Linked DNA regions of Homo sapiens. The protein of the gene in region 3 interacts with the protein of the main gene of each other region in a pairwise test. Each region holds a gene or a part of one and is shown on either strand. Other genes may lie near its edges.

Region 1 (10,238 bases), on a different chromosome or scaffold from region 3:
TGAACTCCTGAGCTTAAGCAATCCTCCCACCTCAGCCTCCCGTTGGCTGGGATTACAGGCACAGACCACCACACGCAGCTTTTTTTTTTTGTAGAGACAAGGTTCCCTATGATGGCCAGGCTGGTCTTGAACTCCTGTGCTCAAGGGATCCTTCCGCCTCAGCCTTCCAAAGTGTTGGGATTACAGGTGTGAGCACCATGAAGTTTTCAGATCTGTTACACAGCACTAAGTAACTGTAACGGTGTGAAACTTTTTTACCATTTCCCCACAAATCAACATTCAAATACTATCTCCACCTTTTCGGGGAGAGGGGGTCCCTCTATGTCATTGGAGAAAATCACTTCCCACCCATTCTTAGTCCATGAGTCCATGTAGTACAGATCGAACTGCCCCAAACACCTGAGTTTACCAGGAGACGGAGGATCCAGGGAGACCCAGTCAACTTGGTACCCACTCTCCTTGATTACAGTGATTGTTTCAGACAATCACTTGGGTATGTGACCCAAGTTCTGCCAATGGAGTCTGCCTGTGGGCTTTTGCTGGTATATCAAGAAAGAGACTATCTCAACCCAGATTACAAACTGTGAGGGAGTTATAAATCCAGCACTGAGAGTGACCATTTTTGCCTGTTTGAGAACGAAGCCAACACAGAAGAGAGTGATACCAAAAACACTGTCCAGAAGGTATCAAGACTCTGGAATCCAGGTATGACTAAAGTTGGCACCACCCTAGGACTTGTTTCATGAGCCAGTGAACTCCCCTTTTACCTTAACCTGGTTTGTGTTGGATCTCTGCCACACAGTCAAACATGAAGTTCAAATTACATCTCCCAGGAAAACCTATATAATACAGCTATCTCAAAACCTTTAGAACTTTTTTGGATCTAGAGGGAATATTTTAAAAATTCAGTTCATTTGGGGGATATAAAATTTGCTATTATCTGCTCTGATGGAAGGGAATCATGAATCAAGATCATTCTTACTCAGAACTCTCAAGTAATTCTAGCAAAGTCAGAAGGCCAGTCTAAAAGCCTTAACAGAGCTCAGGCTGAGTAAATTAAGAGTTTTACCCAAAGCTGCCTGTCTGAAGCCTTCTAACCAAGGAAAAAGGCTTCAGGTCTCTTTAAAAGGCTCCAAAATGTGACAATATGAGTCAACATAGCTGGAGGAGAGTGTGGCAAGCAATCTACTGATGTATAACTGTGTCTAACCCAAAGCAAGTGTAAAGTTCAGTATTTGTTATCTGCAGGAACAAATATTTAGGAATTTCAAAACTAAATATAATTAAGAAAATACACTCTCATTACTGTCCATTACATTAACATGAATAATCAAAAGATGACTTTTCTCAATAGATTTACTTTTCTAATAATGCTTTACTTAGGCTAATAAAGTTCCTTTCTGTCTTCGGAGAACAAGCCAGCACATTTTAAACTATTTAATTTATACACTGATATACCCACATGCTTCTCAATAATATACTTCATTCATAACAAAAACCGCACCCATACTCAAACATCATCTACTACCATATCAAGTAATTTGCTGCTTGCCTGCCAGGCAGGATCCACACAGTTGTCACCTGCAGAAAGCAAATTAACATTCTAAGGAATCCTTAACATTCAGTAGCCCAATCTAGATAAAACCCTAGCAGATCCTACTTCTGTGTGGGCTCAGCAAAAACAAAAACCCTAGTGATATGGACAGGAGACAGGGAAATGCTGGGTAGAAGAAGGCAGTACCCCAGCTAAGGCCCCACCCTCAAGCCTGGAAACCTGTGGCCCTAAATGGGAACAGGCATCCCTGTTTTTGCACCCAAATGTTGCCTTTTGGCCTGCCACACCATGCTATCCTGTACACATATAAACCCCAAACCCCAGGTTCCACAGGCAGATGAGCAGACAAACAGAATGTGCAGAGGAGCATAAGAGCAGCGTGGCCAAGGAGAGAAGAGAAGGAGCATCTGAATGTCAAGAGCCATTCAGCTGGGGATGGTCAGAGAGATCGGCCACAGGACAGCCGAACTCCAGGGGAAGATCATCTTCCCACTCCATCCCCTTTCCAGCTCCCCATCCATCCCACTGAGAGCCACCTCCATCATCCAATAAAATCCCGAATACACCATCCTTCAAGTCCATGTGTGACCCAATTCTTCCTGGATGCTGGACAAGAACCCAAATACCAAGAAGGTACTGAGCTGGTTAACACTTAACCCATCTGCATATGGCAAGCTAAAAGAGCACTGTAGCATGCCCAATGGGGCTTCGGGAGCTGCAGGCACCCACCCCTAGATGCCACCGTGGGGCCAGAGCCTAAAAGAGCTTGCCCCAGCTCCTGCCCCTGCCTGTCTCTGTGCTCCTCCTCCTGTAAAGGGTTTTAGCAGTGGTGGCAGCCAAACAGACGAGCCACATCATTGTCACACGTCCTGCGAGGGGGGTTCAGAGAACTCTCCCATTTCATCAGCAGAAAAATAACTAGACAGAACATTTCCTCCACTTGTAGAGACGATATAGATGAAAACAAAAGTCAGAGAGCAGAACAAAGCAAGGACCCACTCAAGTAGGCTAGGATTTTTTTTTTTTAAATACAGGTGGGGTCTCAATATGCCCAGGCTGCTTTTGAACTCCAGCGCTCAAGCAATCCTCCTACCACAGGCTCCGGAAGTGCAGGCTAGGATTTTTTTTTTTTTCTTTTTTTGAGGCAGGATCTCACTCTCTCACTCAGGCTGGAGTACAGTGGCCTGATCACGGTTCACTGCAGCCTTGACCTCCCAGGCTCAAGGTGATCCTCCCACCTCAGCCTCCTGGGTAGCTGGGACTACAGGTGCGTGTCACCATGCCTGGCTAATTTTTGTATTTTTTGTAGATAGGGGGTTTTGCCATGTTGCCCAGGCTGGTTTCAAACTCCTGGGCTCAATCAATCCACCTGCCTCAGCCTCCCAAAGTGCTGGGATTACAGCCGTGAGCCACCCACCCACCTGGCCCAGGCTAGGAATTTTGACAGGGCTCCAAGTCAGACAGAGCGGAGTACTGGAACATCCATCCATTGTTCTAATTTGACCAGCAAAGTGGGAGTAGGGGAAGGCTGGAACTAGGTGGGCACAATGATGCCTGGGTTAACCCCAAGAAACCAGACCTGTCAGCATGACTAATGTCATAATATCTCTGGTTCTGCTCTGTCAGGGTTGGCTCAGAAACTGAACAGATTAGTTCTATAAAACAGGAAAATTCCACTAGTGACTAAAGATGAGCATGACTGAGGAAGGCGAGCTGGAAGCCCTGACCATCTCACCTAACTCTCCAATTCTCTCCACATTGCCACCTTGTTTTCCAGGCCAAAATCCCTAGGGATGAATTGACCTAGAGCTCTGTAACTCAGTTTGAATAAGAAAAGGTATTAGTGCCCTACTTAGGTTCCTAGTACAAGCTCAAATGCTTTTTCTACTAAAACAGCTTATTGAGGGCAGGAACTGTATTTTCTCTCTCTCAAAGTGCCTGACATAAAATACTCAGTAAATTATTTGCTGAATAAACTTTTGCTATATATGGATGAAGTATAATGTATTACCCAAAAATCACTTTTCTGAGAATCACAACTATCTCTAAAATCAGCCAAAAACCAGAAGAAAAAGTCTCAGAATATCCAAAATAAAGATCAAAGACTATGGATGAAAGATTTTCTCATAGGAAAGTCCCTTAAGCCCTCACACAGTCTTTTGTTCGAAACAAAATTCAAGTTTTTCTAGTTCCCTAACTAACTGAAGCAGCAACTCCAGAATGAGAGCAAGGAGTGGCTGCTTAAATGAAGTTAAGCTGATAGCTGCAGAAAGAGACAGCTGACCCACTAAGGGGGAAAAGAGGCCCAGCAGCTTGGAGCTAGGTAGTATACAGCTCAAGGGACCTCAACAGCCCATAAAGGTACTTGTGTATTTTTTGTATACAAGTTCATTCATGTAATATGTTTTTTGTTTTGTTTTGTTTTTGAGACAGAGTCTTGCTTTGCCACCCAGGCTGGAGTGTGGTGGTGCAATCACAGCTCACTGTAGCCTCCACTTCCCTAGCTCAAGTGACTCTCCCACCACAGCCTCCCAAATACTGGTACTACAGGCACGTCACCATGCCCAGCTAATTTTTTATTCTTTGTAGAGACGGGTCTCACTATGTTGCTCTGGCTGGTCTCGAACTCCTGGGCTCAGGTATTCCTCCTACCTTGGCCTCCCAAAGTGCTGAGATTACAAGTGTGAGCCACCATGCCAGCATCATCTAATGTTTTAAAGTGCTTACTTGTTCAAGGTTAAGCGCTGTGGAGCATAGATTTGTATGGGACAGTACTAACTGTCACAGGTATTTAGTGGAAATAAGATATACATGAATAACGATATTACAAAGTGGAAGGCACTAAGTGCCACATAAGAGGTGAAAGAACCTCTCAATGGTTTGGAGAAGGCAAAGGTTATTTCTAGCTTCATGGTAGCGTTGACAACAGAGCTAGGTCTTGGTTGGATTTGGACAAACCCCTAGACAGAGGTAAAGGTGGAGAAGGGGTTGAGGTGGGTAAAGCAATGTATTCGATTTGGCTGGAAAATAGTATGGCTAGAAAGGTAGGTATTGGATAGTGACTGCTCATAACTGATGTTAATAATTACAAGTCATCAGAAAGGTTAACCATGAGGCACATACTTTTGAACTAAAGGCTATCATCACTTTTGAGATTACTTTCTTAAAAAGTATTTTAGGGTTTTTTTCTTAAGTTTAAGCAGCACATCAGCCAGAGTCATTGGTTGCAGCAACAAAAATTGATCCTAAACATAAAAGTAATTTACTGAAAGGCTATTAGTTTGATCATGGAATTGATGGGAAGGCTGGATACGTAAGATTGAACTGGGAAGAAATTAAGCTAGGCAGCAGGAACAATCAGGTCAGAATGCCAAACATCTGTGCTGAACACAGCTACTACTAACCAAATGCTCACTCCAATGGAGACCCAGCCTCCCCTTCCCTACATCTGTTATTAAGTCTCAACTCTTGAGTACCTGTTTTCAATATGTGTGATAAAATGGGAAGTACACCTGAAGTTTTCCTCCTGCATTCTGAAATACAAGTTGCCTCAAGAAAAAGCACTTGTGCAGTTTTTGAGGTGGCTCAACTAATTGCTTTTCTCATGGGACACTATTTTTACTTGAAAGAACGAATGACAAACTATGGTTATTTAGAAGTATTTACCATTTTCTTGAAAATGAATGAAAAAATGAATGAAACAAGCCTGTTATTTTAAATAAGATAACTTAGTACTACTTATTGCCAATAAAAAAGTTTGAGAATTCAGGTGAAAATTAGTATTTTGGAAAACTTGTATCTGTCACTGTGAGCTTGACAGCTTCCCACATGCTCAAATTCTTCTGACAGATCATTGGTGATATTAATGAAATGTGATTTTTTTACATTGTATAATAAATGAGTCAACGTTTGGAAGATCTGCATAACTCTGAAATCAGTATTTTCCAAATGACCATGTAGCCATGTAACAATAATGCTATAAAACAAGGTATGGGTAAAAATTCATTCAAGGTACAAAACATAAGCTAATGTATTTTAATGCAACAGAATATGAAAAGTTCATTGACATAATTTCAGATTCCACATTGCACTAATCACTTAAGAAAATACCACTTGTGGAGTTTTGGTACAGTATCAGAGTAAGAATATCCAAAATTATCTGAAAAATCTACTGAAATAATCCTCCCTTTCCAACTACATATTTGTGTGATGCTGGAGTTTTTTGGTATATTTTAATCAAAATAGTGTATCACGGCAAAATGAATGCAGAAGCATTTAATGGAATCCAGCTGTCTTCTATTAAACTACATATTAAAGAGATTTACAAAAAATGTAAAACAGGGCATGGGCATGCCAGCCCCTGCTTCTCAGCCTGTACTCCCAGCACTTTGGGAGGCCAAGGCAGGTGGATCACCTGAGGTCAGGAGTTTGAGACCAGCCTGACCAACATGGAGAAAAGCCGTCTCTACTAAAAATACAAAAAATTGGTGGGGCGTGGTGACACATGCCTGTAATCCCAGCTACTCGGGAGGCTGAGGCAGAAGAATCGCTTGAACCTGGGAGGCAGAGGTTGCAGTGAGCCAAGATCGCACCACTGTACTCCAGTCTGGGCAACAAGAGCAAAACTCTATCTCAAAAAAAAAAAAAAGTTTTCTTTTCTTTCCAATCCCAACTGATGTGTAGCATAAACAACTTTTAAACATGTCTTTTACCCCTGACAGATCAAGAAACTTTTTTTTTTTTTTCAGGCAGAGTCTCACTCTGTTACCCAGGCTGGAGTGCAGTGGCACAATCTCAGCTCACTGCAACCTCCAGTTCAAGCAATCCTCCTGCCTCAGCCTCCCGAATAGCTGGGATTACAGGCGTGCACCACCATGCCCAGCTAATTTTTTTTTTTTTTTTTGAAATGAGTCTTGCTCTGTTGCCCAGGCTGGAGTGCAGTGGTGCGATCTCGGCTCACTGCAAGCTCTGCCTCCCGGGTTCATGCCATTCTCCTGCCTTAGCCTCCCAAGTAGCTGGGACTACGGGCGCCCGCCACCACACCTGGCTAATTTTTTGTATTTTTAGTAGAGACGGGGTTTCACCTTGTTAGTCAGGATGGTCTCGATCTCCTGACCTCATGATCTGTCCGTCTCGGCCTCCCAAAGTGCTGGGATTACAGGCGTGAGCCACTGCGCCAGGCCATTTTTTTTAATTTTTAGTAAAGACTGGGTTTCATCATATTAGCCAGGCTAGTCTCAAGCTACTGACCTTGTGATCTGCCTACCTCAGCCTCCCAAAATGCTGGGCCTGGCCAAGAAACTTCTTTCTTAATGAAAAAAATTAGTCCAGCTAGGCACAGTGGCTCACGCCTGTAATCCCAGCACTTTGGGAGGCCGAGGCGGGTGGATCAACTGAGGTCGGAAGTTCGAAACTAGCCTGACCAACATGGAGAAACCCTGTCTCTGCCAAAAATAAAAAATTAGCCGGGCATGGTGGTGCATGCCTGTAATCCCAGCTACTCGGGGGCTGAGGCAGGAGAATCGCTTGAACCCGGGAGGTGGAGGTTGCAGTGAGCCAAGATCGCGCCATTGCGCTGGATCCAGCCTGGGCAATAAGAGTGAACACTCCCCCCCCAAAAAAATTAGGCCAGATGCGGGGCTCACACCTGTAATCCCAGTACTTTGGGAGGCTGAAGCGGGAGGCTCATTTGAGACCTGCTTGGTTAACATAGCAAAACCTTTTCTCTACAAAAAAATTTTTTTTTAATTAGCTGGGTGCTGGGCATGGTGGCTCACGCCTATAATCTCAACATGTTGGGAGGCCAAGGTGGGAGAAATGCTTGAGTCCAGGAGTCTAAGACCAGCCTGGAAAACATAGGGAGACCCCCACCTCCACAAAAAATACAAAAATTAGCTGGGCGTGGTGGTGCATGCCTGTAGTCCCAGCTACTTGGGAGGCTGGGTGGGGGAGGGTTGCTTGAGCCCAGGAGTTTGGGGCTGCAGTGAGTTATGACCATCCCACTACACTCCAGCCCAGGTGACAGAGCAAGACCCTATCTCAAAAGCAAAACAGAACAAAGTAGAAAGAAAAAAAAAAACTAAACTTTTATCAAGATGAAAACTATGACAAAGCTTTGGAGACACTATTATTATGGTGCCTTTCCAACAGAGAAGATGAACATGGACTTAATCCATTTCTTACACCTAGTTTACTTTCAAAGCAGTATATGCCTTCACTTCTCAATCATTTATCAAATCAATAATGCTCAGCAAGTGACCTTCACTTGACCTGCAGAGTTGCTTTTGATCATCTATTCAAAATAAGTACAATCTAAGTAACTTAAATGTGTTTAGATTTTTGTAGCATTTCTGGGCTCCTCCCACAACCAAATGCCCAAACACTGGATTTTGTTTTCCTGGTCTTCCTTCCTCAAATCCTCTTCGCAAAAAAGACTAAACCATAAGGACTATAAAGGTGAAAGCCTTGTATTTTTAGAGGAAGATGGTTGAGTGGATTTTAAATTATAATTGACTAAGATGTACTGAAAAATTAATTATACCATGTCAACAATATCATGCATAGAAAAAAAGGGGAGCAACTCACCCTAAACATTTTAAACTTAAGAAAATGGCAATCAGCCAGGTGCAGTGGCTCTCATGCCTGTAATCACGCACTTTGGGAGGCCAAGGCAGTCGGATCACCTGAGGTCAGGAGTTCAAGACCAGCCTGGCCAACATGGCGAAACCCTGTCTCTACCAAAAAGTACAAAAATTAGTCGGGCATGGTGGCACGAGCTGTAGTCCCAGCTACTCAGGAGGCTGAGACACAAGAATCATTTGAACCCAGGAGGCGGAGGTTGCAGTGACCCGAGATCAGATTATGCCATTGCACTCAAGCCTGGGTGACAGAGTGAGACCCTGTCTCAAAAAAAAAAGTAAATTAGGAATAAAGGCATTTGTAAACCTGTTACCATACAAAGTAACAGATTACCAAGTATAATTTCCAAAAAGTAGACCTATCACTTAATCATCCTTTAAAATTTGTAAAATGAACATTTTATTTGTTAATTTCCATTTACATAAGGAAAAATATCACGCTCGATAGGCTTCTTTTCAGTAACAAACATTTTCCAGAGCAGGAAAACGAATTAGGAAAATTTATTGGTTACAATTACAAGGAATTAGTTGGGTACAAAAGTCTCTTTATGGGGGATAGGCAGCCAGGATTTTACTATGTTGCCTGGGCTGGTTTGAACTCAAGTGATCCTCCTGCCTCAGACTCCCAAGTAGTTGGGACTACAGGTGTGTGCCACCTGAGCTAAAATTCTATTAATTTTACCAAATTTCATTAAATCTAAGATGTCTGTGATTATAAAATGCATTATTTCATGTAACACTAGGAAAAAAACTGCCAATTAAGCTATGGCATAATGCTTACTTATGGTATCCTGTCTTCAAGGAAGGAAAACTGTCTGCCAATGACTACTATGATAGAGGCAGGAGACAGACAAATGCCTAGGCAGACAGGGGCACATCCCCAGTGAAACCCCACCTCCAAGCCGAAGACAGTTTAAAAGCTTGAAAGCCAAGCTACAAGTCAAATCCACGGACCAGATTGAGAACCTGTGTTCCCATTTGGCATGCTTTCCTCTGACTGATCCCCACCCTTCACCTATTTTACATATATCTACCCCTTTCCTAATTGGTTTTCTACACTGTCGTGCCCACCTTTGAGTGGTGTCTTTGCTTTAACCGTTTTTTTTTTTTTTTTGAGACAGGGTCTCACTCTGTCTCCAAGACTCCAAGTGTGCAGTGGCATGCTCTCAGCTCAATGCAACTTCTGCCTCCCAGGCTCAAGCGATTCTTCCGCCTCGGCCTCCTGAGTAGCTGGGATTACAGGCGCACGTCACCATGCCGGGTTAATTTTTGTATTTTTAGTAGAGACAGGGTTTCACCATGTTGGCCAGATTGGTCTTGAACTCCTGAGCTCAGGCAATCTGCCCGCCTCAGCCTCCCCAATTGCAGTAATTACAGGCGTGAGCCACCACACCCGGCCTTCCCTTTAAACTTTTTGCATCAGAAACCAATCAGCACACACTCCCCATTCTGAGTCCCTAAGAAGCCCCGGAACCAGCCACACTGGGAAAGAGACCACCCCCTGCATGCCCTCTTCTCTGAGAGCTGTTCCATCACTCAATAAAATTCTTCTCTGCCCTCCTCACCCTTCGAATTGTCAGAGTAACCTAATCTGTTTGGGATGTCAAGATAAATCAAAGCTTTTAGGAAATACATGTATAACTAATAAAATGAAAGGCACCTCTAAAACTGGATCTTGAAATTAAAAGCTACTATTCAGTGGTGAAAATGATGAGAACATATGCAAAGAGCAATAGTTCACTCAGAAACAGCTGGTCTTTTAGGAGATGAGAAGTTCACTTCATACTTAGACAAAAGGCATAGTGTAGTGCTACATTCCATCCCACCTGCTACACTAACAAAACTGGCTCTACTAGACAACATCCATATTTGAGAAATATTACGTACAGTAAAAGAAAAATCACACGCTTAAAACTGACAGAGGGGGAAAGTATTTAAAATTAATTTACATTAAAAAAAAAGTTGAAAGCTAACATAGAATCAATACCTTGGGTTCTTTTTTCCATTTCCAAAACGAATGTGAGCCAGATTCAAGATTCTCTGTC
Region 2 (10,064 bases), about 54 Mb from region 3:
TTATCCTGGGATATCACTGTGACAGGGCACCCCTAAATCCAGCAAGCACCCTGTCTGCAAGGAACCCAGCCTGTCTGGAACATCTGTTGGCCATCTGGACTGCCCACTGGGATCTCCCTCTACCCTCAGGTACCCTCCCCCTCAACCCCTACCCACCCGGCACAGGGAGACACTGGGTCCTGGCCCCCCTCGCCTATGCCCATAGAGTCCCCTAAACTCAGTCTGACAAGGCCAGTGCCCTTTCATAAGGAGGGACCTGGGCACATCTGCCACCTTCCTGCAGGAAGCCCCAGTTGCCCAGAACCCCTGCCCGCTGGCCACTATAATGTCCTTGGTGTGATAGAGAGAGCTCCTCATTCTGGGTTAGGGGAGGGGAGGCAGTCTGAGTCCACCCCTAGATTCATCAGATGTTAACAAAATGCCTGTCTCAGCCAGGCGTGGTGGCTCACACCTGTAATCCCAGCACTTTGGGAGGCCAAGGCAGGCAGATCGCTTGAGGCCAGGAGTTCGAGACCAACGTGGTGAAACCCCATCTCTACTAAAAATACAAAAAATAGCCGGGTGTGGTGGTGCACGCCTGTAATCCCAGCTACTTGGGAGACTGAGGCACAAGAATCACTTGAACCCAGGAGGCAGAGGTTGCAGTGAGCCGAGATCACACCACTGCACTCCAGCCTGGGCAACAGAGGGAGACTCGGTCTCAAAAAAAATTAAAAAAAAAAAAACCCTATCTCAGTGGCAGTGGACTGAAAGGCAGTGCCTGCCAGAGGGTACCCCAGAATAACCTGGCCCAGGCACCTGGCTCAGATCACACACTTCACACAGCCAGCACTACCCTGGGGCCTCTGGCAGTTCCCTGGAGACTAATCACCCAACTCCCTTATTCCCAGGCCCCTGGCTTCTCCCAGGGCAGCCAGAGGTGATTTTAAACTGACATCTCAGTCACTCCCCAGCTTAGAACACCATGGCTTCCCCACCACTCACAGTCAAATCCCAAGTTCCAGCCCCTGCAGAAACCCCCTCACTATCACTGTGGCCTTCCAGCCAAATTTTTGCTTTTTCTGACAATGCTCAGCAGGCTTCTGCTTTCCATTCCTTTGTCCTCCATCTCAGAGCCCCCAGGGAGCATCCTCACCACATTCCCCAGTACCACCCTCCCACTCTTTACCTCTCCTGCAGCACTGCAGAGCCGCCTCCCTGACACGGCCAAGGTCCGAGGGAACCTCCCCACAGCTTTTCGGGGTCCTCTGCAGCTGTGGAGTCCCCACACTACCTATGTTTTCCTACTCATGCCCCAGTCTCAGGAGTTCCTGGGGCCTTCATCCCACCACCTCTGAGGGCTTTCTACCCCTGGGCCTGTAAACCCATCCTCCCTTGCTGCCAGCCTATAACGGGACAGCTGGAAACCAGAGAGACACAGGAGGCTCCCTGGAGCATAGTTTCCCAACCTGCCAGGACCTCCTGCCAAGGCTCCATACCCATCATGTGCATCCCAGGCTGCTCAAGTTTCCACCACCACCCTTCCAAAGGCCAGGACAGGCTCCTGCTTCCCTACCCAGCCTCAGGATCCCCCTCCACAGAAGCCAGTGCCTGCTGCTCCACAGAGTGGGGCTTTCCCCTCCCCCACATACCTTGCACTTGGGGGAAGGCTCAATTTCTAGGCCCCCTGCTAACCAAAAGTAACAGAACAGTGCCAGTGCCCTGTAACTAGTGCTCAATTCCCCCTCAGGTTTAACTCTCCGATGAGAGATTGCTCCCTCTCCTCCCCCGCCCTGGCTCACCCGAGTGGATGAACATGTGCTTGGTGTAGTTTTTCCGGGAGCTGAACGTCTTGCGACAGTGGCTGCACTCATACGTAGGTGGCTCAGCACCTGGGGTGCGAGCAGGGGTGCCTGAGGGGGCCGTGGTGGGAGCAGCAGAGGGAGCCGGGACCTCCCCCAGCTGAGTACTGGGGGCTGCCTCGGGCTGGAGTGTGGGGTAGAAGGCGGGTGGGGGCGCAGGGGCTGGCCCCGATGGTGCTGAAGGGGGTGGTGCGGGTGGCCCAGGGGCACCCAAGTGAAAGGGGAAGAGTGCAACGGGCGGCCCTGGGGTCTTCACACCAGGCGGGCGGGATCCAGACAGTATGCAGTCGGGCTGGACAGGGGTCTCAGTGGGACAGCCTTCGGGGACAGCGCCATCCTCGTCGTGCCAAGTGGATACATAGCTGTCTGGAAATACGTCCTCAGCTGACCCAGCTCCCCGAAGAAAATCTCTCCCGGCACCACTGTAGTCAGCGAGGCCAGTGGGTGCAGGGGGCTCCTCGCACGCGCTGTCAGCAGCAGCAGTGAGGAAGCCAGCAGCACAGTCTGGGAAGGAAGGAGGTGCCTGGCCCTCGCCTGGGCCGCCACCTTCGCCATCCTCGCCATCGGTCTCATCGTCACTTTCCTCGTCATCCTCGTCACCTCGGTCATCAGGGGCCGCGGACAGTGAGGGGTCAGCATCAGGCCCCTCAGCCTTGGCAGGTGTTGGGGGCGCTGGCAGCTGCAAACGCGCGGGCTGGCGCTGCTTACGGCTGTGTGCAGCACCGGGGTGCCCCGGGGGACGTGCAGCCAGCAGGTGGCGCAGGCGGTGACGCAGCTGCGCAGGTGCGAGTGGCGGGGGCACAGGGGTGGGCAGGGGCGTGGGCGCAGAGGTGCCCGGGGCTCGAGCGCGGGCGATAATCTGCGTGCATTCGTCGATAACTGTCTGTATGCGAAGCACTGACGCGGCCGTGAGCACCTGCAGGGCTTCACCCTGCGCCACAACGAGCGAACCGCTGTACAGGAACTCTACCAGCTGTCGCACTGTCTGCGCGGGCACCACCGGAGGCACACGGATCTCAGAGTGGCCGAGCAGCAGCTTGTCTTGGAAGAAGGGTGAGCCGGCCGCCAGCACGCAGCGGTGGGCACGCAGCGAAGCTTCACGAATGCGCACAGTCACGTCACAGAAGTGTCCCCCAAGCCTCTGCCCATTGAGGGTCTCAAGCAGAGAGCGTGAGAAGTTCTGCAGGTGTATGTGATGCACAGCCTCTGCAGCCGCCATCTGCACAGAACAAGAGGAGGGCAGGGAGAGGTCAACTGAGGACCCCCATCTGTCCCAACGTCCCTGTCCCCTCACCCCTTGTTGCAGGACAGGGCTCGAGTGCACCACACTCCAAGGCGCGCTAACCCATCCCTCCCCAGCTGCCCTTCACAGTCCCCATTCCCAACACAGGACACTCCAGCACTCCCTCCTCCCCCTACCTCAGACCTGGCCAGGCCGTCTACAGCCCCCCATTAACGCTGCAAACCCTAGCACACCCCTAGGAGAGGGTGTTGGCCTCAATCACTGCTCCCGAAAAGGTTCAGGCCTTGGCCTACTCTATGTTGACTCACCCACCCACCCCACCCCAACTCCAATAACCCTAAGCCTCCCCATGTGCCCCTCCAAGAGGGCAGCCCGGTGTGTAGAAGAGGCCAGGGACCCCCATCCCAACTGGCTAACCTGCCTCACCCCGAGTAGACCTTGCTCTCTACCCAGCTAGCTTCCACTCCTCCTCCACCCCTGCTGACAGCTCCTTTTGGTTTCCTTTAGCCACATCCCCCCAGTATGAGACCCTGTGCATAGGCAGGATTGCTGCCTCAGAACCAGGTCACCTTAACTAGTATATACAGAGGCTCTCGCAGGAGTGGGGTGGCATGACCTGCTTCCTGGGCAGGGTGGTTCTGGGTGTGCCTAGTCACTAAGGGCTGAGGGTAAAAGGTTGGGCAGTACCTTGGGAGATGCCCCAGGGAAACCAGTACATGCTCCCTGGCAGCCCCTAGCATAGCGAGCAGGGAGGTGGCTCCTGCAGCCCCAGCTTCTTGCCATCTCGATGGGGCCTGTGGGGCCCAGGGTGTGGGTGTGGCACAGAGAGGGGAAGTGTGGATTGAGCAGGGGTGTGTGACTGGATAGCTGCCCATGGAGTAATCGGGGACACGGCCCAACATCAGGCACCAGAAAGGGGAGGGGGTAGTCCTCAGAGGACTCTGGAATCTGAGGAGTTCTGCTACTCCATCCATCAAGCAGGTAAACCGTGATCCTTCGGCCTGTTTCCCCTTCTATCAAACAAGGGATGAGATACTCGGCTCATCCCGCACCCAGACTGCACACACCTCCAGTCTAAGGGAGGAGGGTAGGAGCTCTGGACTCTGACATCCGTATAGGCTCCACCAGCCTGTCTCTCCCTTGGAGTCACAAAGCCCCAGGGTGGGCTCGGCTTGATGCTGCCCCTACACCCTCGGGCTCTACTGGGGTCTCAAGATTCAACCCCTCCGACTCCTTATGCCCAATCCGCCGTCCCTTTGCTCAGCCAGACGCCTCCCTTTTTTGCATGCCCCACATTTGACCCTCAGACCACTTCGAGCACCTCCACTGCCCCGTTCCCGCTGTCCTGGACGGATGAAGAAACCTGGCTGGTGTCTCTGCGCCCCTCGCCTCCCCTTCTGTTCCCCACACGGCAGCCAGAGGGAGCTTTTCCAGACTACGGATCCGGATACACCACCCCGCTCCCTGGCCCTGTTCTGAGCCTTCTGTGCAATGCCTCAAAAAAGCCAGGCCTGTGCCCGCGCAAAGGCTAACTCAGCAAGCAGCACCGCCCCATCTGTATTCACCTAGCACCTGAAAGGATTCTAATCTGTCCGGCCGATGGGGACGGAAACTTGCGCATCAACCCGAGAGACTTGAACCTTCCTTTCCCGCCCCGCCCCGCGACGGGCTCCATTCCTCAGTCCCGACGCCGCAAGGCCGGCCTGGACACTTCAGAACAAAGGCCTGCACTCGAGACCCGGCGCCCAGGCCAGCTTCCCGGGTCCGGCGCCGCACACTCCCGCCACGCCTTCGCCGCGCCGTGTGCTTTACTCCGAGCGCGTTCTCCCATACTCTGCTCCATTGCCCGCGCCCCACCCTACGCCCAAAGCACCCCTCTGACCCGCCGCTGCCACCCCGCACTCTGGCCCCCGCCGTACCCCGGTCCTGCAGCGCCCCCTCGCGTTCTCAGCGTGCGCTTCTAGCGGAGCGCAGGTGCCCCTCCCCTGGCACGCCCCAGCCTCCTCGCCCGCCCTGCGGCAGGGGGATGCCCATTCGACCCCACCTCCGACTCCTCTTCAGGCACCAGGCTCTGCCGTGGCCGCTTCCTCCTGACCGACTACAAGGCCGCACTTCCGGGCCGTTACCCCGGCGGAACGGAGGCCTGCGGTCGCGGCGGCGCAGGGGAAACCCTAGGCCGAAGCACGTTTCCGGTATTTTTATGGCGATCAGCTCCCGCCAGTCTGCACTCCGGCTCTCCTCTTAGTCGGAACCAAAGTCGAAGAGGCTAGGGCTGCCGCGTCGCGAGGAATGTCTGGACCAGAGCACTCTTCCGGCGTCGCCCAGGAGATCAGGGGTGTGGCGGGCCTGCGCGATCAATCCGCAAGCTCCCTGTGATGCAGAATGGGAAGGCAGTTCCCGGCCCAAGTGCCCAACGTGTTCTGGCCAGTTTAAACCCCACTGCGAACCGGGGAAGTGGCCTTATTCCTGTGACACGGGTGAGAGCTGAAGTAGGTCTCGGTCCCTGGCCGCCAGGAGGTGCAAGCAAGCTACCACTACTGCAGACGCTCCAGGCCCGCCCGCTGTGGGTGGGACTGGGGAAAGGACCCCATCTCGGCCTTGGCACCTTCTACTACAACGCAGACAGGAATAGACAACTGCCTCACCCTGCTCTGGGCCTCCCCTGAGCTAGACCCTGTGAGATTCTGGGACATTGCAAGTCAATCTGGTATGGGGGACAGAATTCCGAAAATGGCCCCCTCCGAGATTTCCGTGCCCAAATCCCCAGAACCTGTAAATATGATTATCTCACCTATGAATAGTTACACTACATGGTGAAAGGGTTTTTGCGGAAATAATTAAGGTTACTCATTAGCTGATCTTAAAATAGGATATGATTCTGGATTATTTTGGTAGGTCCAAGGTATCATAAGGGTCCTTAAAGGCAGAAGAGGAAGGTGGAGAAACTTGAAGTAGGAGAAGGGTTCCAGAGGCTTTGAAGGTAGAGAGGTCCATGAGAGGAAATGCAACAGGACAGGTGTCATGCTGAGAATCTGAGAAGAGCTGCAACAACAGCCAGCAAGAAAACAGACCTCATGGCCCGGCGCAGTGGCTCATGCCTGTAATCCCAGCACTTTGGGAGGCCAAGGCGGGTGGATCACGTCAGGAGATCGAGACCATCCTGACTAACACAGTGAAACCCCATCTCTACTAAAAATACAGAAAATTAGCTGGGCGTGGTGGCAGGCGCCTGTAGTCCCAGCTACTCGGGAGACTGAGGCAGGAGACTGGCATGAACCCGGGAGGCGGAGCTTGAAGTGAGCTGAGATCGCGCCACTGCACTCCAGCCTGGGCGACAGAACGAGACTCCGTCTCAAAAAAAAAAAAAAAAAAAAAAAAAAAAAAAGGCCGGGCGCGGTGGCTCACGCCTGTAATCCCAGCACTGTGGGAGGCCGAGGCGGGCGGATCATGAGGTCAGGAGATCGAGACCATCCTGGCTAACACGGTGAAACCCCGTCTCTACTAAAAATACAAAAAAAAATTAGCCGAGCGCGGTGGCAGGCGCCTGTAGTCCCAGCTACTCAGGAGGCTGAGGCAGGAGAATGGCGTGAACCCGGGAGGCGGAGCTTGCAGTGAGCCAAGATAGCGCCACTGCAGTCGGGCCTGGGCGAAAGAGCGACACTCAGTCTCAAAAAAAAAAAAAAAAAAGAAAGAAAGAAAAGAAAACAGACCTTAGCCCTAGAAGTGCGTGGAGCTAGATTCCGCCCACAACCTGAATGAGCTTGGAAGCAAATTCTTCCCCAGAGCCTCCAGATAGCAGCTTAGTCCATACCACACCTTGATTTTAGCCTTTATGAGACCCACAGAAGACCTACTTGGGCTTCTGACCTATGGAATGGTGAGCTAATAAATGGATATTGTTTTAACCTATGGAGTTTTGGTAATTTGTTATAGTAACGATAGAAAACAAATACATCTGGTGAGATCCAGGGCCTCCACACAGTGAGAGTCCAATAAATGCCACTATTTGTTTCCCATCTGATGAACGCATTCCTCACATTTCCCTCACTGAAAGCTTTATTTCTGTGCCTTCCCAGCTTTTACCAGGCCCCTTCGTGATCTCATTCCTCAGGGAGCAGTTCTCACTTCCCCTATCCCAGAGGACAGAGGGACTCGGCAGTGAAAGAGGGAACCAACTGTCCAAACGCATGACTAGAACAAAGCCTCCAGAAGACAGACAGGGTCAGGATGCCTGTCCTTCACCCAGGACAGCTACTGGGTGATTGTGTTGTAGATGTGGTATTTGGAGGTCAGGGGGAGGAAAATATGTACCAGGTGGGAAACCTCATTAAAACACAAGTCTAGGCTGGGCACAGTGGCTCACACCTGTAATCCCAGCACTTTGGGAGGCCGAGGCGGGTGGATCACCTGATGTCAGGAGTTTGAGACCAGCCTGGACAACATGGTGAAACCCCGTCTCTACTTTTTTTTTTTTTTTTTCTGAGACAAAGTCTCGCTCTTGTCCCCCAGGCTGGAGCGCAATGGCGCGATCTTGGCTCACTGCAACCTCCGCCTCACAGGTTCAAGCGATTCTCCTGCCTCAGCCTCCTGAGTAGCTGAGATTACAGGCACCTACCACCATGCCCCACTAATTTTTGTATTTTTAGTAGAGACGGTGTTTCACCATGTTCACCAGGCTGGTCTCAAACTCCTGACCTCAGGTGATCTGCCTGCCTCGGCCTCCTAAAGTGCTGGGATTACAGGCATGAGCCACTGTGCCCGGCCTGTCCCTACTAAAAATACAAAACATTAGCTGGGCGTGGTGGCGGGTGCCCATAATCCCAGCTACTTGGGAGGCGGAGGCAGGAGAATCGCTTGAACCCGGGAGGCAGAGGTTATAGTGAGCTGAGATCGTACCATTGCACTCCAGCCTGGGCAACAAGAGTGAAAATCCGTCTCAGAACAAAAAAACAACAAAAAACACACAAGTCTAATAACCTGCCATCATCGTCTTTGTTCAGACTCAAACCATGGCCTGCTGGACCCACTGGGTCTGCTTTCACTGGGCTGAGTTTTGGGAAGAGCATAAGGGTAGGTGGGAAAGGCATGCATGAGGCCTCTGAGGAGGGAGGACGGCCCTCCCTTGGGCAAGACAAATGAGTGAACCTTGGGCTGAGTGGCAGGATTGCAGTGTGTTGAGGGGGGGAAGCCATGTCCCATTAGCCCCATTAGCATGTTTAAGGGGCTGTAGGGAAGACAGTGCACCTAGTGGGGTGGCAAACGCAGGAGTCCTAGCAGGAAACAATAGCTGCCCTGACAGCAGTGAAGGGTAGAAAGGGACAGATTCAGGGTAGGAAGGAGAGGACACGGGTGGCTTTAGAGAAAGTCTCAGCTCCAAGGGATGGGGCCTGGAGGATTAGGGCAAGATAGGGGTGGAAGACCCTGCCCAAGGGCTAGGATGAACACAGGAAGGAGAAAAACCAAACCCTGACCTCTCTCAAGCAGCCAAGGGAGGTGAGAGCTGCAGCCTCAAGGGTTATTTTCCTTTTCTCTCTAAAGATCTTTTCACAAGGCTGGGCGTGGTGGCGTCTGTGGTGGCGTCTGTAATCTCATAATTTCAGCACCTTGGGAGGCTTAGGCAGGTGGATCACCTGAGGTCAGGAGTTCGAGACCACCCTGGCCAACATGGTGAAACCCGGTCTCTACTAAAAATACAAAAATTGGCCGAGCACGGTGGCTCATGCCTGTAATCCCAGCACTTTGAGAGGCTGAGACAGGTGGATCACCTGAGGTCAGGAGTTCGAGACCAGCCTGGCCAATATGGTGAAAACCCCATCTCTAGCTGGGCATGGTGGCGGGCACCTGTAATCCCAACTTCTCTGGAGGCTGAGGCAGGAGAATAGCTTGAACCTGGGAGGCAGAGGTTGCAGTGAGCCAGAGATCAGCTGTCATTGCACTCCAGCCTGGGAGACAAGAGCAAGACTCCATCTTTTTTGTTTGTTTGTTTGTTTTGAGATGGAGTCTCACTCTGTCGCCCAGGCTGGAGTGCAGTGGCGCAATCCTGGCTCACTGCAAGCTCCGCCTCCTGGGTTCACGTCATTCTCCTGCCTCAGCCTCCCGAGTAGCTGGGACTACAGGCGCCCGCCACCAGGCCCCGCTAATTTTTTTGTATTTTCAGTAGAGACGGGGTTTCACCGTGTTAGCCAGGATATGGACTCCATCTTTAAAAATATATATATATAGAAAAATTAGCTGGGCGTGGTAGCAGGGGCCTGTAGTCCCAGCTACTTGGGAGGCTGAAGCAGAAGAATCCCTTGAACCCAGGAGGTGGAGGTTGCAGTGAGCCAAGATCACGCCACTGCACTCCAGCCTGGGAGACTCTGTCTCAAAAAAAAAAAAAAAAAAAAGGGCTTGGGACGGTGGCTTATGCCTGTCATCTCAGGACTTTGGGAGGCTGAGGTGGGCAGATCACCTGAGATCAGGAGTTCCAGCCTAGCCAACATGGCAAAACCCCGTCTCCACTAAAAGTACAAAAATTAGCCAGGCGTGGTGGTGGTGGGCCCCTATAATCCCAGCTACTCGGGAGGCTGAGGCAGGAGAATACCTTGAACCCGGGAGGCGGTTGTTGCAGTGAGCCGAGATCGCGCCACTGCACTTCAGCCTGGGCGACAAGAGCAAGACTCCGTCTCAAAATAATAATAATAATAATAAAAAGAATGTGTATATATATGTGTGTGTGTGTGTGTGTGTGTTCATATATGTGTGTGTGTGTGTGTGTGTGTGTGTGTGTGTGTGTGTATGAACCCAAAGACCTTAACCCTGGTTGTGGGGGCATTTCAAGGAATAAATGTGTACCTGAGAACACAGGTTTGACAAGCTAGGGAGGAGGGCGATGTGGCCTGCAAATATTAAAAACTCCAGGCTAGGCCGGGTGCAGTGGCTCACACCTGTAATCCCAGCACTTTGGGAGGCCGAGGCGGGCGGATCACGAGGTCAGGAGA
Region 3 (10,238 bases):
TGGCCTGGCCCCTCGCCCTGCCCGGACGGCCGTCCGGCTCCGACCCGCGGGAGGGGGCGGAGAGAGCACCCCAGTCCCCGCCGTCCGCGCCCCCAAAGCGCGTGACCCCGTCTCCTCTGGCCCGGACCCCCCCTCCTTTCCCTTGACGCCACCACCACGTGCGAAGCCTGAGCCCGGGCAGGGGAGGGGGGAGCTGGTGGGATCCAGCCCCCTCCCTCCCGCTCCCTACCTCCCGGGCGGGAGACCCAGCCCCCCCGGCCTGGGAGCCTGGCTGGGGGCTGAGCGGAGCGGAGGAGCGGGTGCCCCCCCAGGGACCGGGCCTCTGCGGGTTCTGGGAGGCGCTGCCCGGGCTGGCTGGCGGGGGCGCACGGTGGGCCGCGGCGGGAGGTTGCTGTCCACCCGGGCCCGGACACCCAGTCGGCGCCCACTAAATGTTGGCGGAATGCAGCCAGGAGTTGGCGGCGAGGCGGGGGGAGGCAGCAACTCCTCTCCCCCCAGTCAGGCGGCGGAAGTCACAGAGGTGCTGGTGCCCCTGCCACCCGCGGCACCCACCTGGCTCACCCATGGGTGGCGGGCTCGGTGGGCCCCCCCACCTCCCTGCCAGCTGCCTCCGGAGAGGGCGTGGGGATTCCGTGTCAGTGCCCCCCGCCCCAACCTCAGAACTGGACCAGGGCGTAACCCTGAGCGTGCCGCTCCCACACTGGGGGTGCCTCCCCACCACCGGCCGATCACTTCCTATTGGCAAACTGGTCTGGGAGAGGTCCCGGGGAGGCCAGGCTGGGGCAGGGGCCCAGGCCAGGCCAGGCCTAAGCCCAGCCCTGCTGCTGCCAGGGCCTGAGGGCTTCAGGCCGGGGGCGTTTGTCCGCGAGGGCCACCCGCCATGGGGCCCCGAGAGCACCTATCGGCGGGGCCGGGGCCTCTGTTTACCACCAGCCATCGCTGTGGAGACAGAGCTTGGGGGAGAAGGGGGGGCAGGAGCCGGCCGCTGGAAAAGCGAAGTCTAAGGAAGGAAAGAAGAGCCAACCGGGACACTGAAATTTTAATTCGTGGGTCAGTCCGGGGGGTATTTATTATTCAGTTCCGATTGGCTGCGTGGCGGCCAGTCAGCACCTGGGCCCGGGCGGGCAGCCACGCATCGGCAGAGGCCCGCGGGCGGCCGCAGGCAGTGGATGGGTCCTTTGCTCTGTGCGGGAGACTGAGGCGCGGCCGAGGCAGAGCCCAGCCTGGGGCCTGGTCGGAAAGGTTCCTGGGGCGATCACAAATCCCTGCTGGGTGTTTGTTTGTTTGTTTGTTTTTTCCTTTTCTTTCCTTGAGTCCCTCTGACCTATAGCTGGGTCCACCTGGTGGCAGATCCCCGTTGCCATATGAGGAGGAAACCAAGGCCGGGAGGGGAGGTCAAATGTGAGCCTGGAAACTCCGGAGGTTAGAGCAAGCCTCGGAGCAGGTGCCGGTACTAGGCAGGGGAGACTGAAGCGTAGGGGGAAGCAGAGAGCGGCCCAAGGTCACTCAGGTGGGGTCAGAGCTGCCCCCTGTGCTCCATCCTTCCAGCTCGGGGCCTGTCCAAAGTCCCCTCCCACTGTGTGGTGGCCCAGGGGCGCCTGCCCACCTGTCTTTAAGCAGGGCCGGAGGTTGGCAGTAGAGGCTCAACTGCAGGCACCTGCCTGCAAATGGAGTGTCACCGAGGCTTATTAAACCCTGTGTCCGAAGATGACATTGAGGCTCAGAGAGGGCCAGCATGGCTCCCAAGGTCACACAGCACGAGCCACAGCCCTCTCGCCTCCCTGCCTCACCGGGCAGGCCCTGGCTGGCGCACGTGCATACGAGGCCCCTCTGCAATCCTGCCGAGCCACAAACTCGTCTCACCTTGGTCCTCAGAGGCGGGCAGGGCTCTGGGTTTTATGACCAGAGGAGACCGAGGTCACCTCCCCAGAGCCAGCCCACTGCAGCCCAGATGCTCCAAGGAGGGCTCCTCAAGGGTTGGAATGCTGGCACGCTTGCTCTGCGACCTTGGATGAGCCCCGTGACCCCTGCAGCCGGGGCGCGCTGTGTTCCTGGGGCTGTGGAGGGTCCCCCAGCTGCTGCCTGCAAAGCCACCCGTGGTGTCTTTTCTCCTCCGCGGCGGAAACTCCCAGGTCAGCTCAGGGCATGGCAGAGACCTGAGTGTGGGGTGTGGGTCAGAACTGCGTGAGACACCTGCACCCCCACCTGTCACCTGCCAGACCATAAACTGCCCTGCAGTAGCCCTGGGCAACAAGGACAAGAGGAACGAGCTTGGGTGGGGGTGAGCCTTGGGTGGGGGTGAGCATGGTCCAGTCCTAGCCCAGCCCTTGGGTCCACCCCAGCAGTCACTCCCCCTCTGCCAGCCTCAGTCTTCCCATCCAGACAGTGGGGAGATGGTCATCAGCCCTAGAGTGTTGTCTCGAGGGTTCGCTCAGCGGCTCATTGGGAATGCTTGTTGAGCGACTACTGTGCACTGTGTCAGGCCCCTGCGGAGCTGTCTTGAGAGCTGGAGGGGCAGAGGCCCCTCCCTGAGCCACCCATGTCAGCTGGACTCCAGCCCTGCCCCAGGCTCCTGTGTGAGAGCTCCCTTGCAAGGCAGCTCTGAGGGTATGAGGATAAGCCGTCCTTCCTCTCAGCCCCCAGGGTAGGGGGATTTCATCTCCTGCTGGTATCCGGGGGCCAGGAAAGGGGATGGAAGGAGCCGTGGGAGGACTAGTTAGGCAGGCCAGAGCCAGACAGACGGCCCGTGCTCAAATTCCAGTTCTGCTGCGCGACCCTGGCCAAGCTGCTCCCCCTCTCTGATCCCGTTCCCCGTTTGCAAAATGGGGCACAGACACAGATCCTGCCTTCCAGCGCTGTGGGTGCCGTCACGTACCGTGGGTCTCTGGGGCGATTATCAAGGCCCAGCCTCCCCCAGCTGCTCCGAGGAGCGGCTCTGGCCCTTGGGCCCCGAGCGCCGAGTCCAGAGCCCCAAAGCGCAGAAGGCGCCCCTCAGAGAATCCGGCGCTCGGGAGGAGCGTGGCCAAAGGACCAGCCCCTCCATCTGTCCCCCCAGCAGGCTGTGGACGGCCACTCGGTGGAAGTGTCGCCACCCACGCCTTTCTGGTTTGACTGGAAAACAAGGCCCATCCCACCTATCAGGATGCCTGAGAGAAGGATCTGGCCGGATTCTGCAGGCCGCCAGGCTCCCAGGCTGAGCCTTCCACCTGCTCAGGCGAGAGTGGGGGTGGGGCAGGTATCTCCAGGTGACAAGCAGGCCTCCCTCAGGGGAGGGAGAGAGAGGTCACCTCGGCCTCTCACAGGCATCTCAGCTAAGCAGGTGCAGCCTGGGCTGATGGCAGGGTGGACAAGGATGGGCTTCCGAGAGTCTGGCCTTGCTTGCCCCCAGTGACGGGAAGCTCAGCCCCTCCACTGTCGTCATGAAGCTTCCTCTTGGAACCTGGGCTCGGGCTGTAGTCTGGGCTTCCTGGCCCATGACATCTCAGAGTGTGGGAACAGGGTGGGCCTCAGTCCCGCCCATGAGTTGGGCGTCAGATGGGATCCCCCTGGCCTCCTCATCGCTGCCCCCATCCCCGCTGTCACACTTCCCACTGGGTCCCCACGGCCTTCCTGCCTCTGGCCCTTTAAGGCCCAGGCAGGAAGCCCCTCCCCATTTAGGGCAATAAATGGACACGTAAAATGGCCGAGGGCCTGTTTGCTCCATGTCTGGCCCAGAGGGAGGCCTGCGGGCGAGGGCAGGCGGGCAGGGGGCGGGCTGGCAGCTGGCAGCCACCCCAGGCCGTTGGTGCCCCCCGATCGGGACACTGCATTCCTGTCCCATTAAACCCAGGCCGAGGACTGGGCCAGGCGGGGCTTGGCACCAGGTCAGGGCGGGGTTACCCGTCGGGACCAACCTTGCAACACAGGCCGCTGGGCGGGGAGGGGGCGGGGGCTGCCGGGTGCGGGCCTGGCAGCCGCACCTGCACACCAGGCTTACAGTGTGACCTTGGGCCGGCCGCCCACCCTCTCTGGGCCTGATCTCCCCTTCCAGCTTCCTCCTCAGGCCCCACCACTCACTCCCTTGGTAGGTGAGGAGGGGACTGAATTCCCGGAATAGCATTCAGGAGCAAAGTTCCCATCCGTGAGGGGTGGTGAACAGCCTGGCAATGTGTTTTGGGGACTGGCTCTGGCGCACATTAGGTCCCTGGGCTAAGTTTGCTGAATGGATGTGAGCGGGACCCTGACCACAGTGGGGGGCCCCTTTCCACTGTTACGACCCCCATCCCCCAGGAGACAGAGGCTCAGAGAGGTCTCGCATCTTGCCCAAGGTCACACAGCTTGGAGGTGGGGGAGCCGAGGCTTGAACCCGAGCTGCTCTGCACAGCACATGAGGGGTGAGAGGTCCCTTTGGCCTCCTTCCCTGCTCTCCCTGGGCAGAGGGTTGGGTGGGGGCCCTGATCCCCTCATTAGACGGCCCCCTGCTCCAGGAAGTGACCTTCGGGAAGGTGGCGGGTGGCAGTTACCTGCCCAGCCCTCACCTTGTCGTGTGACCTTGGGGAGGCCCCTGGCTCCCACACCCTGCACTAGCGATGCAGCCTCCTCTCTGCCGGTCCCCCTTCCCCGGTCGCCCACCTCCAGGCCTCAGTTCCTGATGCTCCCCGTGCTGGGGTGCCCTTCTTGGGATGCCGGGGTCCTTCCTAGGCGACATCTGCTGCTCCCTGAGCCACGTCAGGGTGCTTCCGAGCTCACGACACATCCCCCGCAGCTGGGAAGTGGCAGCTGCCCAGATCAGAGGGCTGCTGTGTGACCTCGACTGGGCCGCCTCACCTCTCTGAGCCTCTCAGGGACCTGGGGAAGACGAAGTGAAGGTGCCCAGTTAGTTTGGGAGCACAGAGGGGGCCGAAATGCGGCCCGGGTGCCGTGGCTCTCGACAAACACTACAGCAAGTGACCCTTAGGTTAGATGGGAGGTGGGACCGGCAGGCTGCACAGCCCCCTGCTTCTGGGTATGCCTGGCAGCCAGCTGGGTGGGCCGGGGCGTGGGCTGTCTCTGGTTTATCCGGCGGTTTGCTGCGCCCCTACTATGCGCCACCCTGGGAGGGTTGGGCTTAGGGGCCTGGGAGTGGCCCGGGGGGAGGAGGGCGCCCCACCTCCAGCCCAGGAGGGGCCTGCCAGGGCCTGCCCCTCGGCCGCCGAGTCAGCACCAAGCAGCCCCGGAAATCCCACGGAGGCCAGCGCGGGGGAGGAGCTGTGATGAAAGATGGGGCCCCGGGTGGGTGTGGGCCGAGCCCAGGGGACCCTGGCCGGCAGGGGTGGGGACCTGGCTGGCGTGGGGCCGGGGCTTCCTGGAGGAGGGGAACGAAACCGCCACCTCCGGAGGCGTGTACCGTGTGTCGGGCGCACAGTGGGGCTTCAGCACTCGGGGACTTTTTATTGCCAAGACTTTGTGGCCCCCGCCGGGGGTGCTCTGGCTGGGCCCGGCCTCCCCTCTCCCACCTCGGAGGCAGGGTCTTCGGCCCTTTCCTTAGGGGAGGCCTCCAGGAGGCCTAGGTGGGGGCATTGGCGCAGGGCGTGGCCGGCAGGTGGCTTGTGTTCCTGGAGTGAGGGCGTGGGTCAGTTGTCTCAGAGCGAGTTTAGTTTCCAGGGCGAGGGCAGGGCCTTGCCCTGGGTGGGTGGGGGGACCGGCCCCTCCATCATTTCCTGGCCCCCAGCCCCTGGGAGTCAGCCCTGCCGGGCATCCTTAGGCCAGGACTGCAGCCCTCTCTGGGCCCCGGCATTCTCATCTGTAAAACGCGGCCACAGTCCTCTCACGGGGGCTTTCCTTGGCTGACATCACCCCGGGCCTCGCTGCTTTGAGGGAGGGCCTCAGTGATATTTAGGGGGGAACAGGGGCCCAAGAGAGGGTCCCAGGCTGGAGAGGGCAGAGACTGGGACCCCCGGACCCAACCTGGAACTGGGATCTTCACACTGGCGGGGACCTGCAGGAGGTCGCTGAGCCACCTGGATTATTTTGGGCCCATCCTCCAGGCCCCAGGAAAGACACCTCCCAGCCACTCCAGAGCGGGGACCCTGGTCACCCGAGGGGAGGAACGGCCCAGCAGGCCAGGGATAGCCATCTTGGGGCGTTGGTGGCCTGGGTCAGAGGTCTCCCCCCATGCTGGGGTGGGTAGGAGGGCCCGGGCCCGTCTGATCCGGAGCTCCATCTGCTCACACGCTCCCCGCGGCCCAGGGCCAGACGGCAGATGGTGGCAGGGGGTGGACACCACCAAAGGGGACTCCTCGGAGGCTTCCCAGGGCCGAGCCTTGGGTGGGGTCGCTCCCCTCCTACCCTCCCTGCTCCCAGCAGCCACATCTGAGCCCACCGCCCCACCACAGGCCTTAGAGTAGACGGGGGTGCTGAGCAGCTGGGCCCTGGGCCGAGGCTGGAAGGAGGGAAGGAAGGCGGGTGGAGGGGCCTGGGGAGCGTGGTGGCACTGAGCAAGCTCACAAAGGCCTCTGTGTCGCCTGGCAGCTCAGGCCCCGCGCTGAGGGCCCTGGGCTTTGGGTCCGGCTGGACCGACACCATGCCTCCCTTGTGGGGCCTGGCTCAAGCCCGTCGGCGTCAGAGCCTGCCTGAGCTGCTGGGCTGGGGGACAGGAGGGTCTGGTGGCCCGGAGGAGGCCATGAAAGGCCCAGCTCAGGCCCTCTCCCCAGGGGCCTTGCCCAGGGGCTCTGGCCCGAGAGCCACCGGCCGGCCTGGAGGAATGTGAGCTGTGCTGGGTGACTCGGGGCCGCCAGGGGCTCCCAGGAGAGGGCGGAGGGGTGGGGACAGGGGCCAGAGGGTTGCACAAGCTCCGAGTGGGTGGATGAGTCACAGCCGAGGGGAAGGCGGAAAAAAGGGAGGGGGAGAAAGGGGTGGGACAGACACAGTCCCCCCAGGGCCCGGCGCTGCCCGAAACCTCTGCCCATTTGACAGATAGGGAGACTGAGGCCCAGAGAGGGCCAAGGCCTTGGCTGGGGCTGAACAGCTCAGCTGGGGTGGCTGAGAGTTGGGGAGGGGCTGCCAGGCAGTCCTGTGGGCAGGCAGGAGGTGGACAGGGGTTCCCCCGGCTCCCTGCTCCTCCTGGGCTGTAGCCCGGTCTCTGTTACTCACAGCCAGGGCTGAGCCCTATGCTGGGGGCTCTGAGGGGCAGGAAGGGGTTTAGCCTGCGGAGTCACTGGCCCTGTCCGGACGGGGCACACCCACGGTGGCCTTGACCTCAGCTGGGTTTCGGCACTGGGTCCCCGTGCCTGGGCTGCCACACCCCTTCCTGCTGACTCAGAGCCCCCCTGAAAAGAACCAGGCCTGACCAGGAGGCAGGAGTCAGGGTTGGGGAGGCCAAGGGGTCGGCTCTTAGGTCCACTCTGGGTTTGAGTTTGGACGCAACTGTGTCCTCATGGTGGGGCCTCGGGCAAGTGGCCTCAGCTCACGACGGAGTGGGTGCTGCCGGTGGGGTTCGGGTGGAACTGGCGGGAAGTAGGTGTTATGTGTTGTTGTTATTGTTTTTTTTTTTTTTTTTGGAGACGAGTCTCGCTCTGTCACCAGACTGGAGTGCTGTGGCGTGATCTAGGTGGCTCACTGCAGCCTCCACCTCCTGGTTCAAGTGATTCTCCTGCCTCAGCCTCCCGAGTAGCTGGGACTATAGGCCCGCGCCACCAGGCCCAGCTAATTTTTTGTTAGAAATGGGGTTTCACCATGTTGCCCAGGATGGTCTCAATCTCTTGACCTCATGATCCACCCACCTTGGCCTCTCAAAGTGCTGGGATTACCGGCGTGAGCCACCGCGTCTGGCCATAGTAGGTGTTTTGTAAAGGTCACTGCGTGGCCTCCCCTCTGTATCGGCCGAAGCCCGTGCTCAGATCAACAGGAAAATGGCTCAGATCAGGGCACTTCTCTCGAGCTACTGCGTCCTCCTGTAGCGCCTCAGAGTGCCCTTTCCTTATTTATTTATTTTTCCAACACGGAGTTTCGCTCTTGTTGCCCAGGCTGGAGTACAATGGCGCAATCTCACCGCAACCCCCGCCTCCCGGGTTCAAGCGATTCTCCTGCCTCAGCCTCCCGAGTAGCTGGGATTACAGGCACGCGCCACCACACCTGGCTAATTTTGTATTTTTAGTAGAGACGAGATTTCACCATGTTGGTCAGGCTGGTCTTGAACTCCAGACCTTAGGTGATCCGCCTGCCTTGGCTTCCCAAAGTGCTGGGATTATAGATGTGAGCCACAGTGCCCAGCCCTTTTTTTTTTTCTTTTTCTTTTTCTTTTTTTTTTTTTTTCAGACCGAGTCTCGCTGTGTTGCCCAGGCTGGAGTACGGTGGCTCCATCCAGGTTCACCACAACCTTCGCCTCCCGGGTTCAAGCGATTCTTCTGCCTCAGCGTCCTGAGTAGCTGGGATTACAGGCACGCGCCACCACGCCTGGCTGATTTTTTTTTTTAAGACGGAGTCTCGCTCTGTGGCCCAGGCAGGAGTGCAGTGGTGCAATCTCGGCTCACTGCAACCTCCACCCCCCAGGTTCAAGCGATTCTCCCGCCTCAGCCTCCCGAGTAGCTGGGATTACAGGCACGTGCCATCACGCCCATCTATTTTTGTATTTTTAGTAGAGACAGAGTTTCACTGTGTCAGCCAGGATGGTCTCGATCTCCTGACCTGGTGATCTGCCCGCCTCGGCCTCCCAAAGTGCTGGGATTACAGGTGTGAGCCACCACACCCAGCCTAATTTTTGTATTTTTAGTAGAGACAGGGTTTCACCATGTTGGCCAGGCTGGTCGCTGGTCTTGAACTCCTGACCTCAAGTGATCTGCCCACCTCAGCCTCCCCAAAATGCTAGAATTACAGGCGTGAGCACCGAGCCGGGCCTCAAAGTGCCCTTTCAACAGGCATTCCCGGGGGCCCTCCTCGGAGGGGTGGTGCCAGTGTGCTTGTGAAATTTAAGCGTCCAGTGTGGGTTTTGCCAGCCTCATCTCACGCTGATGAGACAGAACAGGGCATCTGACTGCTCTTGGGCACAGCTAGGGAAACTGAGGCTGATGGGGGGCAGGAAACCTGACTGTCCTCATGCACAGCTGGGGAAATTGAGGCTGGGGGCAGGACAGCTGGCCGCCCTTGTGTACAGATGGGAAACAGGTTGGGAGTGGGACACCTGATTGCCTTCCTGTACAGCTGGGGAAACTGAGGCTGGGGACATGACGTCTGATTGCTTTTGTGTACAGCTGGGGAAACAGGCTGGGGGAGGCAGGACATCTGACCATTCTCATGCACAGCTGGGGAAACTGAGGCTAGAGGATAGGACATTTGACTGCACTTGGGAACAGCTGGGGAAACTGAGGCTGGGGAGCCGGGACATCTGGCTATCCTCATGCACAGATGGAAAACAGTCTTGGCCGGGTGCCGTGGTTCATGCCTGTAATCTTAGCACCTTGGGAGGCAGGGGCGGTTGGATCATTTGAGGCCAGGGTTTTTTGATTTGTTTTGTTTTTTTGAGATGGAGTCTTGCTCTGTTGCCCAGGCTGGAGTGCAGTGGCGTGATCTCAGCTCACTGCAAGCTCTGCCTCCTGGGTTCATGCCATTCTCCTGCCTCAGCCTCCCGAGTAGCTGGAACTACAGGCCCCCGCCAACACGCCCGGCTAATTTTTTGTATTTTTTAGTAGAGACGGGGTTTCACTGTGTTAGCCAGGATGGTCTCCATCCCCTGACCTCATGATCTGCCTGTCTCGGCCTCCCAAAGTGCTGGGATTACAGGCGTGAGCCACCGCGCCAGGCCGAGGCCAGGGGTTTGAGACCAGCCTGGCCAACATGGTGATAGCCTGTCTCTGTATTAAAGACACACAAAAAAGAAAAGAGGCTGGAGGCAGGGCATGTATCGCTTTGGTGCACAGCTGGGGAAGCTGGGGCTGGAAAGGCGCGACATCTGACCGCCTTCACGTGCAGGTGGGAATGTGAGGCTGGGGGAGCAGGGTGGAACGCTGCTTCTCAAGGGCCTCGGGCCCTTGTCAGTGGGCACAGGAACCCCCGCACCCCCACTCACGAGCGCCCTCTCCTTCCCCACTGCTGCAGGTCTCGGCGCGGAAGATGGCCGGCGGCGTGGACGGCCCCATCGGGATCCCGTTCCCCGACCACAGCAGCGACATCCTGAGTGGGCTGAACGAGCAGCGGACGCAGGGCCTGCTGTGCGACGTGGTGATCCTGGTGGAGGGCCGCGAGTTCCCCACGCACCGCTCGGTGCTGGCCGCCTGCAGCCAGTA

What was found.
Region 1: the proteins of ZBTB7A (region 3) and ZBTB5 interact in a two-hybrid assay, tested with the Homo sapiens proteins (one study listed by IntAct).
Region 2: the proteins of ZBTB7A (region 3) and ZBTB45 interact in a two-hybrid assay, tested with the Homo sapiens proteins (one study listed by IntAct).

What each region holds. Positions count from the first base shown.
Region 1 is NC_000009.12:37,453,272-37,463,509, forward strand, and holds part of ZBTB5 (zinc finger and BTB domain-containing protein 5), read right to left. Parts: intron 1-10,238. UniProt on the Homo sapiens protein: May be involved in transcriptional regulation.
Region 2 is NC_000019.10:58,514,614-58,524,677, forward strand, and holds the start of ZBTB45 (zinc finger and BTB domain-containing protein 45), read right to left. Parts: upstream 5,198-10,064; 5' UTR 5,129-5,197; exon of another isoform or gene 5,004-5,128; intron 4,990-5,003; exon of another isoform or gene 4,406-4,989; intron 3,061-4,405; coding exon 1,782-3,060; intron 1-1,781. UniProt on the Homo sapiens protein: May be involved in transcriptional regulation. In the central nervous system, may play a role in glial cell differentiation.
Region 3 is NC_000019.10:4,055,060-4,065,297, reverse strand, and holds part of ZBTB7A (zinc finger and BTB domain-containing protein 7A), read left to right. Parts: intron 1-16; exon of another isoform or gene 17-1,050; intron 1,051-9,776; exon of another isoform or gene 9,777-9,789; coding exon of another isoform or gene 9,790-9,924; intron 9,925-10,050; coding exon of another isoform or gene 10,051-10,065; coding exon 10,066-10,238. UniProt on the Homo sapiens protein: Transcription factor that represses the transcription of a wide range of genes involved in cell proliferation and differentiation.